Linked DNA regions of Homo sapiens: all the other regions are linked to region 2. The links come from fine-mapping of genetic effects on gene expression. A gene starts in region 2. Each other region holds a variant in brackets. All regions are shown on one strand. Distances are from middle to middle. Region 1 overlaps ASXL2 (ASXL transcriptional regulator 2). Region 2 holds the start of DTNB (dystrobrevin beta). Region 3 overlaps DTNB (dystrobrevin beta). Region 4 overlaps DTNB (dystrobrevin beta).

Evidence for each region.
Region 1: its variant is fine-mapped to the expression of DTNB in whole blood (TOPMed, PIP above 0.99).
Region 3: its variant is fine-mapped to the expression of DTNB in whole blood (TOPMed, PIP above 0.99).
Region 4: its variant is fine-mapped to the expression of DTNB in whole blood (INTERVAL, PIP 0.92).

Annotation. Positions count from the first base shown.
Region 1 is chr2:25,773,717-25,776,404 of GRCh38, reverse strand. All of the region lies in intron 5 of ASXL2 (ASXL transcriptional regulator 2), which reads left to right. Among named protein-coding and RNA genes, the nearest start is that of DTNB, 100 kb to the right of the region's middle. The variant G/A (reference allele first, on the strand shown) is at 1,124.
Region 2 is chr2:25,672,191-25,674,878 of GRCh38, reverse strand. DTNB (dystrobrevin beta) reads left to right here and starts at 1,302. Exons shown (of 21, transcript NM_021907.5): 1 at 1,302-1,493. RefSeq lists silencers at 1,265-1,559, 924-1,853.
Region 3 is chr2:25,635,208-25,637,895 of GRCh38, reverse strand. All of the region lies in intron 3 of DTNB (dystrobrevin beta), which reads left to right. Among named protein-coding and RNA genes, the nearest start is that of DTNB, 37 kb to the left of the region's middle. The variant C/T (reference allele first, on the strand shown) is at 982.
Region 4 is chr2:25,647,102-25,649,789 of GRCh38, reverse strand. The region is part of intron 2 of DTNB (dystrobrevin beta); the gene reads left to right. Among named protein-coding and RNA genes, the nearest start is that of DTNB, 25 kb to the left of the region's middle. The variant A/G (reference allele first, on the strand shown) is at 1,422.

The DNA.
Region 1 (2,688 bases), 100 kb before region 2:
GATCTATAGACAAAACGTGACATAAGCATGCAATGGAATATTATTTTACGATAAAGAATAAAGTATTTATACATATTGAAACATGGATGAGCCTTCAAAAGTAAGCACTTTGTTGAAAAAGTCATTCACAAACGAGCACTAATGTATGATTTCATTATATGAAATATCCCTAAGAGGCAAATTTATAGAGACAAAAAGTAGATTACTGGTTACCTAGGACCACGGACATAGATGGGGTAAAAGATGAGTAACGGTTAACATGTATGGTGTTTTTTGAGGGGTGATGATTGTACAACTTGGTGAATATACTGAAAGCCATTGAATTTTATGCTTTTTTCCCCAACATTTTCAAAATAAATTTAATTTTGTTAGCTTACTAGGGAAAATTAAATCACTAGTCACACAACAAATTGACTCTGAATGGATTGCAAAACCAAAGTTTAAACCTAAATCCTGATGCTTTTAAAAGAAAACAGAGAATAACATCTTTGTGGTCTTAAGATAGAGAATGATTCCTTAAATAAAACAAAAGATATTTAATATAGTGGGGAAATAACAAATGAGATTATTTAAATATATTTTAAGTATTTCTCAGACAGAAAGAGGAGGAGACTGAGAGAGGGTGTATTAGGTTGTTTTCACACTGCTATAAATACCTGAGACTGGGTAATTTATAAAGGAAAAAGGTTTAGTTGACTCATAGTTAGTTCCACATGGCTGGGGAGGCCTCAGGAAACAACAATCATGGCAGAAGGCGAAGGGGAAGCAACCAACTTCACATGGTGGCAGGAGAGAGAAGCGAGAAAGAGCAGGGAAAACTGCCTTTAAAAACCATCAGATCTCATGAGAACTCACTATCACGAGAACAACGTGGGGGAAGCTGCCCCCATGATCCAGTCACCTTCCTACTTCAACAAGCGGGTGATTACAGGTCACTCCGCTGACACGTGGGGATTACAATTCAAGATGAGATTTGGGGCCCAGCGAAGTGGCTCGTGCCTGTAATCCCAGCACTTTGGGAGGCTGAGGTGGGTGGATCACCTGAGGTCAGGAGTTTGAGACCAGCCTGGCCAACATGGTGAAACCCCGTCTCTACTAAAAATACAAAAATTAGCTGGGCGTG[G/A]TGGTGGGCACCTGTAATCCTAGCTACTCAGGAGGCTGAGGCAGGAGAATCACTTGAACCTGAGAAGCAGAGGTTGCAGTGAGCTGAGATTGTGCCATTGCACTCCAGTCTGGGTGACAAGAGCGAAACTCCATCTCAAAAAAACAAAAAAAAGATGAGATTTGAGTGGGGACACAGAGCCAAACCATATCAGAAGACTAACTAAAAAAGGACATCTATCTAGCATACATAAAAAACTACCACAAGTCAACAAGAAAAAGACAGCTATTAATAAAACCACGAGAAGACAGGCAAAATGAAATAACAGTCTTCAAAATAGAGGTTATTCAGTGACTAAAAAAATGTTAACAAGTGTTCAGCTTTCTTAGCAATCTGAGAAAGCCTGATATAAACACAGCAACCAGGAGATTGAAATGAAAATGACAGAGAATACCAAGTGTTGGCAAGGATGTAGAAAACTTATACACTGCTAGTGGCTTCAAAATTTTGTACAAACATTTTGGAAAACTGGCAGTATCACCTAAAACTGAAGAGATGTAAACATAAAACACAATTCCGCTACTACATATATACCCCCAAATCTTTATGTGTTACCAATGCATTTTCTAGAATTTAGATACTAGTACTATTCCTAATATTCCCAGATGAAAAACACTCACATGTACATAAGCAGTGGAATAATTGTGTGATATTTTCACAACAGAATTCAATGCTATTAAATGATTCACAACATGGAAAACTACATATAAATTCAAAACAGCCTACAGAATGTAAAAAGACATGTACAAAAGAGTTCCTGCTGCACAATATTTATATAAAGTATAAAAGAGGTAAAAGTAACCTCTGCTATTAGATGTCAATGTAGTGCTCATCCTTGAAGATTGTGACCGGCTGGGATCACAAAAAGATAGCTGTGGGCTTAAAATATCCTTTTTTAAAAAATTTAAATATAAAAAGCTTCAGTGTGCTACCCACTTGTGATCTGTGTACATATGTTTAAATATTTTAATTTTTTTAACTTTTGTTTTAGGTTCGGGGTACATGTGCAGGTTGTTTGTATAAGTAAATTATATGTCATGGGGGCTTGGTGTACAGAATACTTTGTCACCCAGGAAATAAGCATAGTACCTAATAGGTAGTTTTTTTATCCTCACCCTCCTTCCACCTCCACCCTCAAGTAGGCCTCAAATTTTATACTTTAGGCAAGATGTATAGTATATGAATTATATATATATATATTATTTTTTCTTCTGTGATGGAGTCTCACTGTGTTGCCCAGGCTAGAGTACAGTGGCGTGATCTCAGCTTACTGCAACCTCCGCCTCCCAGGTTCAAGTGATTCTCCTGCCTCAGCCTCCTGAGTAGCTGTGACTACAGGTGTCTGCCACCACACCCAGCTAATTTTTGTATTTTAGTAGAGGCGGGGTTTCACCATGTTGGCCAGGCTGGTCTTGAACTCCTAACCTCAAGTGTTCCACCTGCCTCGGCTCCCTTTGGGATTATAGGTGTGAGCCGCCGTGCCCAGCTGCATAGTATAAATTTTATCTTAAGCTATTTTTTAAAAA
Region 2 (2,688 bases):
CGCCCGGCTAATTTTTGTATTTTTAGTAGAGACAGAGTTTCGCCATGTTGGCCAGGCTGGTCTCGAACCCCTGACCTCAAGTGATCCGTCTGCCTCAGCCTCCCAAAGTGCTGGGATTACAGGCGTGAGCCTCCGCGGCAGGCCAGAAAATGCTCATCTTTTGAGGAACCTATTTGTTCCCATTTAACAAAGTTGGTTATCAGCATTTCCTTCACCATAGGAGTTTAAAAATAAAAAGAGGAGAGGAGGAGGAAGAGGGTGTTCTAAAGGCAGGCAGGCAGGCAGGCAGGCAGCAGCAGGAGGTGGCACGATCTGCCTTACCGTAAGGTGCCAAAAAGCAGTGAAAACCATACTCCCAGCATGCAGGCCTGGGGTCGCTTAGCTCTGGAGCTTACAGCCTTCATCATTGACCAATAGCCCCCAAAGGACGTTGCTGTTTTGAGTCTTAAGTAACGTTGAGAATGACCATTTGAACCATTCAAAAAGTCCTTGCTATATTCTAATTTGGCACCATCTCCTGTATTTCACAGTTTGGAAAGAATTCTATAAAAGATGGATAACAGTAAAACACAAAAAAGCTGGTGCTGAGATGGTAAACCTGGCTGCCCCGGCTCCTTTGCCCAAACTGTTTTCCCAGCCCTAATGTCCTCCCTTTTTCCTCCTAGGACTTCTTTTTCTTCCTTCGAGGTTGACCATAAATGCCGCCTCTAGCCCTCTGCGGCGTCCAAGCAGAAGTCGTCTCTAGCTTCTGTGCCAGCATCGCACCGTGGCTTGGCTCTGCACGGGTCATCGGACTTGGTTGTGTACATGGCTGTTTTCCCCGCTAAGTTTGGGGCGCCTCGAGCCCAGGCGCCGTGACCGTGATCGTGCGCCCACAGGCACCTGGTGCAGCGCGGGGCGCACGCCGCGGCTGGGCTAGCTTGCGGAGTTCACGGGGGTCACTCGGGCACAGGCTTGTGACCCAGGCGCGGAGAATGATTCACGGGGTGGCTCTTTGCATTCTTTGTCGGGTAGTCACGTCGGGCCGGGCACCCCGCCGACGGATACCTGCGGATGGAAAGACACCCGGCCCGACGCCAGCGAGCGGGAGAAGCCTGGATGGAGCCAGCTTCCCGCCTGCCCGGAACCCGCCGGCGACCGGTGGGCGGGGCGCGGCCGCGGGGGCGGGGTGGAGGGGGGTTGCTCGGCCGCTCCCGCCCCCTCCCCGCGCGCGGAAGCCACGCCCCCGGCCGCGCGCTCGCGCTGGGCGCGCGCCCGCCCATCCGCCCTCCGCCCTCCGCCCTCGCGCCCTCGCGCCGGGGGCGGGCGCTGCGCGTGCCGGGCGGAGAAGCGGCGCGAGCCGGGCGCTGCGAACGTTCGCCGCGGGGGTGGCTCCGGGGCCTGAGTAGGCGCTGCCGCTGCCTCAGCCGAGGGGGCTGGGCCGGAGCGTGCGGAGGAGTGAGGCCGCAGGAGACCTTCCCGACGACCCCTGCTCCGGCGGGGAAGTGAGCAAGGTGGGGGTCTGCGGCCGCCGCCGGGGCTGTGGGGAGACGAGCTGGGCTGGAGCCTCGCGCCCGCGAGGTGCGGGACGGCAGCTCGCGCTGCGCCGGGACTGGGGACCCGGGAGCCTGCGGGTGCGGCGCTGCAGGAGTCGGGGAGGGCGCGGGGAGCCGGGGCCGCTGCACCGCGCGCGGCTGCGAGGTGGGACGGCGCGGCTAGCCCCGGAGGGACAGGCAGAGGGGATGCGGCGGATCCCGGGCCGGGAGGGGTATCGGGGTCCGGAACGCGCCGGGGCACGGGCGCGAGCGGGGGCCCGGCGCCGGGCTGATGCTGCCCGAGCCCGGCTCGCCTGGAGGCGGCTCTGCGTTAGGTGCTGAAGGGGCGAGTGAGGCAGGTCCTGGCAGAGGGCAGGTGAGGCGGGCAGGCCCTGGCAGAGGGAAGGGTATTTATTTCAGATCACCCCAAATCACTGTTTCCCGAGGCGCCTAATAGCGAACCTGTCCAGGAGGTCACCCTGGACAGGAAAGAAGTGTCCCGAGACGAGGATGCCGGTGACGAATACTTGCCCTTAAATTCCTGTGCCAGGCCTTGGGATTAGGAAGACCTTCCAGCTACCGTAGGTAGAGACCCGTAGTCAGCACTGGGGCCACGAAATAGTATGGAACACCGTCATGTTATTGAGGTGCTGACAGTGTGGCTGTGAAGATATGCACATGAAATACAAAGGAGCGTCGAATTTTATGTCGCATGCCCTATTTACTTTCGGTCTCTTTTGTCTTTTCCCAGTATTGGGAAATTGGAGCCATAAATTGCGTGGTTTTGGGGATAAAGCAGAAAGGTCAAAAGAAGCCTATGGGAGAAATTTGGGAGAGTTTTGAAGGCTCCTACGGGTAACATTTAAAGGGGGCTCTTAGATGGGGAAAAAAGACGTTTGGAAAGAAAGGAAGTTTCCTTCCTTCCCATCTAGAAATAAGCTCCATGACTATTGACTGCTAAATCTTCAGAATGTTGCCTGGCTCACAGCGGTTGAGCCATAAGTGTCTATTGCATGAATGAATGGACAAGCAAGGTTTGGCCACATTTGCCATGGAGCAGTGTCAGTCACTCTAGTGTTAGGGAAGGTTGCTGGATTTCTCCTGTTCCACAAGTTCTCTCTCTCTGCCTCTTTTTTTTTTTTTTTTTTTTTTTTTTTTTTTGCTATGCGAGGCA
Region 3 (2,688 bases), 37 kb after region 2:
TTATAGCAGCCTGATTTATAATCCTTTGGGTATATACCCAGTAATGGGATTGCTGGGTCAAATGGTATTTCTAGTTCTAGATCCTTGAGGAATCGCCACACTGTCTTCCACAATGGTTGAACTAGTTTACAGTCCCACCAGCAGCGTAAAAGTGTTCCTATTTCTCCACATCCTCTCCAGCACCTGTTGTTTCCTGACTTTTTAATGATTGCCATTCTAACTGGCATGAGATGGTATCTCATTGTGGTTTTGATTTGCATTTCTCTCATGGCCAGTGATGATGAGCATTTTTTCATGTGTCTGTTGGCTGCATAAATGTTTTCTTTTGAGAAGTGTCTGTTCATATCCTTCGCCCACTTTTTGATGGGGTTGTTTGATTTTTTCTTGTAAATTTGTTTAAGTTCTTTGTAGATTCTGGATATTAGCCCTTTGTCAGATGGGTAGGTGGCAAAAATTTTCTCCCATTCCGTAGATTGCCTGTTCACTCTGATGGTAGCTTCTTTTGCTGTGCAGAAGCTCTTTAGTTTAATTAGATCCCATTTGTCAATTTTGGATTTTGTTGCCATTGCTTTTGGTGTTTTAGACATGAAGTTCTTGCCCATGCCTGTGTCCTGAATGGTATTGCCTAGGTTTTCTTCTAGGGTTTTTATGGTTTTAGGTCTAACATTTAAGTCTTTAATCCATCTTGAATTAATTTTTGTATAAGGTGTAAGGAAGGGATCCAGTTTCAGCTTTTGACATATGGCTAACCAGTTTTCCCAGTACCATTTATTAAATAGGGAATCCTTTCCCCATTTCTTGTTTTCGTCAGGTTTGTCAAAGATCAGATGGTTGTAGATGTGTGCTATTATTTCTGAGGGCTCTGTTAGACCTGGTTTTGCCATTTATTATAAACAAATAATCTTGGGCAAATCACGTTACAGCTGATAAATTCTACTCTACTTTAAGTCTTACTCACAAATCTTAACTTAAAATTCTCTC[C/T]GAAGAGTTTATCATGCCATCCTAGATCGAAGTGATGTTTCTTTCTCCAGTGGTTTCTCAAAGCATTATTTTTTACATTGTGAGTTGTTACCCATTAATGCTTCATGAAATCATTTTGATGGGCTGTAGCCAGAATTAAAAACATATAATAGGAAAAAAAAGGAAGAAAAATAAAATATTAGAATGCAACTTATGTGGTAAGGCTAAATGTGTTCTGATATCTGGATGTATCTATGTGTTTGTGTGTGTACATGATGATTTAAATATATTTCTGTGATGATTTAAATATATTTATATATCTAGATATATGTATGTGTTTGTGTGTATATGTGTGTATGTGATGATTTAAATATATTTCTGTGCTCGTGGTCAAAAAGTTCGAAAACCACTGCCTTAGAACAACTCTCGTTTTTATAATTCCTGCCATAATTATTCTTGGGAAACAGTAGTCTACGTGTGGAGTGTTGAGAGCCTGACTAGGCTAGTGGCATTAGTAATATAAAGTAAAAGATGCATTGTTCTAAAGGTTTTATTTTGTTACCTTTCACGTAGGATTCTAGAGTTGATCTGAAAAAAATTTTGAGACTGTACAGGATAAGTAGTAGTCAGTTTTCAAGTTTTTCCATATGTATGTTCAGTTGTTCCTTTACTTTTTGTTGAAAGGGTCAATAAACAGAAGAAAATAAACAATTTTCTTCAATGCTGAAGAGTCTTCTCATGCTTATTCATTGAATATGAATATATTCATGAATCTGTACAAGTTTTTCCATATGTATTTTCAGTTGTTCCTTCACTTTTTATTGAAAGGGTCACTAAACAGTCAATAAACAGAAGAAAATAAACAATTTTCTTTACTGCTAAAGAGTCTTCCCATATTCATTCATTGAATATGAACATATTCATGAATCTGTACAAGAATGTTCATGGCAGTGTCCATATATGAGAAGGTCTGCTTTTTGACCCTCTTGTGTTCCCTGGTCTGTTTGTCTATCCTTCTACCAATACCAGACTGTTCTAATACTGCACTTTCTTGTAGCAGTAACCACTATTAGAATTTAGTAAATCTAGATGTCAGGCAAGGCAAGTCTTCCTACTTTGCTCGGCTTTTCTTTTTAAGATTCTCTGGGACAGTCTTGTCTTTTTAACATTCATTTTCATATAAACTTTAGAATCTGCTTGCCAATTTCTACTAAAACCAACAAAACAACTCTCCTGTGTTTTTTTTATTCATTTCTTTTTTCAAGTATAATTTACACACAGTAAAATTCCTCTTTTACTGTACAGTCCTGCAGAGATTTTGATTGGGATTCTGTTGAATCTGTAAATCAAGTTGGGGAGAATTGACATATTGCCAATGTTGAGATTTCCTCCTGTGAACGTGGTATATGGTCATCCCTAGAACTATTTAGGTCTTTAATTTCTTTGTAGAGATGTTGCACATCCTTCATTGGATGTTTTTTATTTTTTAAATTTTTATTTATTTATGTTTTGAATCAGAGTCGCTCTATCGCTCAGGCTGGAGTGCAGTGGCGCAATCTTGGCTCACTGCAACCTCCGCCTCCTAGGTTTGATTCTCCTGCCCCAGCTTCCCCAGTAGCTGGAACTACAGGCGCCCGCCACCATACCCAGCTAACTTTTGTATTTTTAGTAGAGACAGTTTCGCCATGTTGTCCAGGCTGGTCTCGAACTCCTGGCCTCAAGTGATCC
Region 4 (2,688 bases), 25 kb after region 2:
ACTCTTATTAGTCTTAATGGTTATAGATTCCTACTTAGGTAGGTAACTATACAATTTTTTTCTTTTTCTTTGAGACTGTGTCTTGCTCTGTCACTCAGGCTGGAGTGCAGTGGTATGATCACGGCTCACTGCAGACTCAACCTCCAGGGCTCAATTGATCCTCCCGCCTCAGCCTTCTGAGTATCTGGGACTACAGGCGTGTGCCAGCAGGCCTGGCTAATTTTCTTGTTTTTCGTAGTGATGGGTTCACACTATGGTGCCCAGGCTGGCTGGTCTCGAACTCCTGGGCTCAAGTGATCCTCCCACCTCTACCTCCCAAAACGCTGGGATTACAGGTATGAACTACCGTGCCTGGCCAGTAACTATACCATTTTTAAAGAAAGACAATTTTGACTCTTCCTTTTGTAATTGTAATCCTTATACCTTTTTCTTGACCTAGTGTACTGGTTAGGGCCGCAGAGGTTATATTGAAAAGTAGGAAGGATGGCCAGGTGTGGTGGCTCACGCCTATAATGCCAGCACTTTCGGAGGCCAAGGCAGGCGGGTCGTGAGATCAGGAGATTGAGACCATCCTGGCTAACATGGTGAAACCCCGTCTCTACTAAAAATACAAAAAAATTAGCTGGGCGTGCTGGCAGGCACCTGTAGTCCCAGCTACTTGGGAGGCTGAGGCAGGAGAATGGCGTGAACCTGGGAGGCGGAGCTTGCAGTGAGCCAAGATCGCGCCACTGCACTCCAGCCTGGGCGACAGAGCGAGACTCCGTCTCAAAAAAAAAAAAAAAAAAAAAAAAAAAAAGGTAGGAAGGATAGCGTCTTGTTTTTGATTTTCATGGGAATATTTCTAATATTTCTATTCTTTCTATATTTCTAATATTTCACTGTTAAGAGTGATGATTGGTACAGGTTAACCAGATAAAGGTGAAAGAACTGATATGTCCTAATTTGCCAGGAATCATTATCATTATTTTCTTAAGTCATAACTGAATATTGAATTTTATCAGATGTTTTCTGCTTCCCTTGAGATGAATGTCTTTCCTCTTTACTCTGTTAATATAGTGCTGGGGCCAGCCATCTTTTTCTTAAAGAGCCAGAAAGTAAATATTTTAGGATTTGCAGGCTGTATGATGAGGTCTTTGTCACACTACTCAACTCTGCCATTGTAGCATAAAAGCAGTCATAATAATTTAATAATTTAAATAGTTTTTTTTTAACCTTAGTTTTCAGAATATTTCCTTTTGGAGCTCTTTTTAAAAAAATAATTGTAACTTTTAGATTCAGGGGGTACATGTGCAGGTTTGTTACATAGTTTGTATTTTTCAACCTTGTGTTACCTTTACTATTATGACTTTATATAATATCCTTAAGCCTTTATGTTTTTAGACAGTAGTTTTTACATTTTCTGTTATGAACACAGCGATGAA[A/G]TTAGCTTATTCTTTCTTTGCTTAATATTTTATCTTGTAGACTCTAAGCATTATGAGAATAAGTATCACATCTGTTTATCATGATGGTGCCTCGATAAATATTTATTAAAAGAAGAATGGAATATATTACATAGAAATAAATGGGTAGTTTATGATTCTTACATGATATAAAATCACCAAGAAAAGTGAAAGGTGACAGGTGAGAAGAGTAATCCTCAACTCTGGTGCCAAAATGAAAGCTCTCCAGTTGATTGTACAAAGTGCTTGATACCAGGCCTCCATGCTCAGAGATTCTGATTTTATTTTGTCTTTTCTAAAGTTTGCCAATTTTATTGGACTGACTTTTGGCTTTATTGGTCCTCTTTGTGTATCTTTGTTCTCTGCCTCATTTGTGCTGTGTATTTTCCTCTTCCTATTTAGGCAATTCTGTTATTTTTCTAACAACTTATGTTGGGTTACTAAGGCCATTTGTTTTCAGCCTTTTTTTTCTTATGTAAGCATTTAAGAATAAACTTTCCTGTGATTTTTTTTTTTGCATCCCAAGTGTTCTGATATTTACTATTTTTCATAATCAGTTCTCTATTTCCTCTAATTTTTATTATTAATTACTTAAAAATATCTTTTTATTGATCAGTTGGTTGGTTGATTGGCTGATTGATAGAGACAGGGTATTGCTCTGTTGCCCAGGCTGGTCTTGAACTCCAAGGCTCAAGCGATCCTCCCACCTCGGCTTCCCAAAGTGCTGGGATTACAAGCGTGGGCCACCGCACCTGGCTGGAGTATCTTTTTAAATTTGAAAGTAAATGTTTTAGTTAAAAAAACCTGTATAGCTTAATTGGGTTTTGGGTCAGGAAATGTGAGAAGATCTAGAATCTTTGAATTTGTTAATTTATGTTTTGTGTTTTTCCAAATATTCCATGAGTACTTGAAAATAATGTGTATGATTTATGCATTATTTAGATCAAGCTTTTTGCATATTTCATTAAAATCTTTTTTGTCCTTGGTGATTTGATTGCTTGATCTTAATCACTGAAAGATGTTAAATATTTCTGCTTTGATCAAGAGTATTAATTTTTTCCCTGTACTTCTGTTAGCTTTTAGAACTTTAATTCTTGGATGCATGTACCTTTAAAATGTTATGTCTATCTAGGAAAGTGAATCCTTTGTCATTGTGTAGTTACCCTCTTTTTCTAGTAATGCTTTTGATGCTTTGAAGTCTATTTTGTAGCATATTGATAGAGCTAATGCTGGCTTTCTTTCAGTTAGC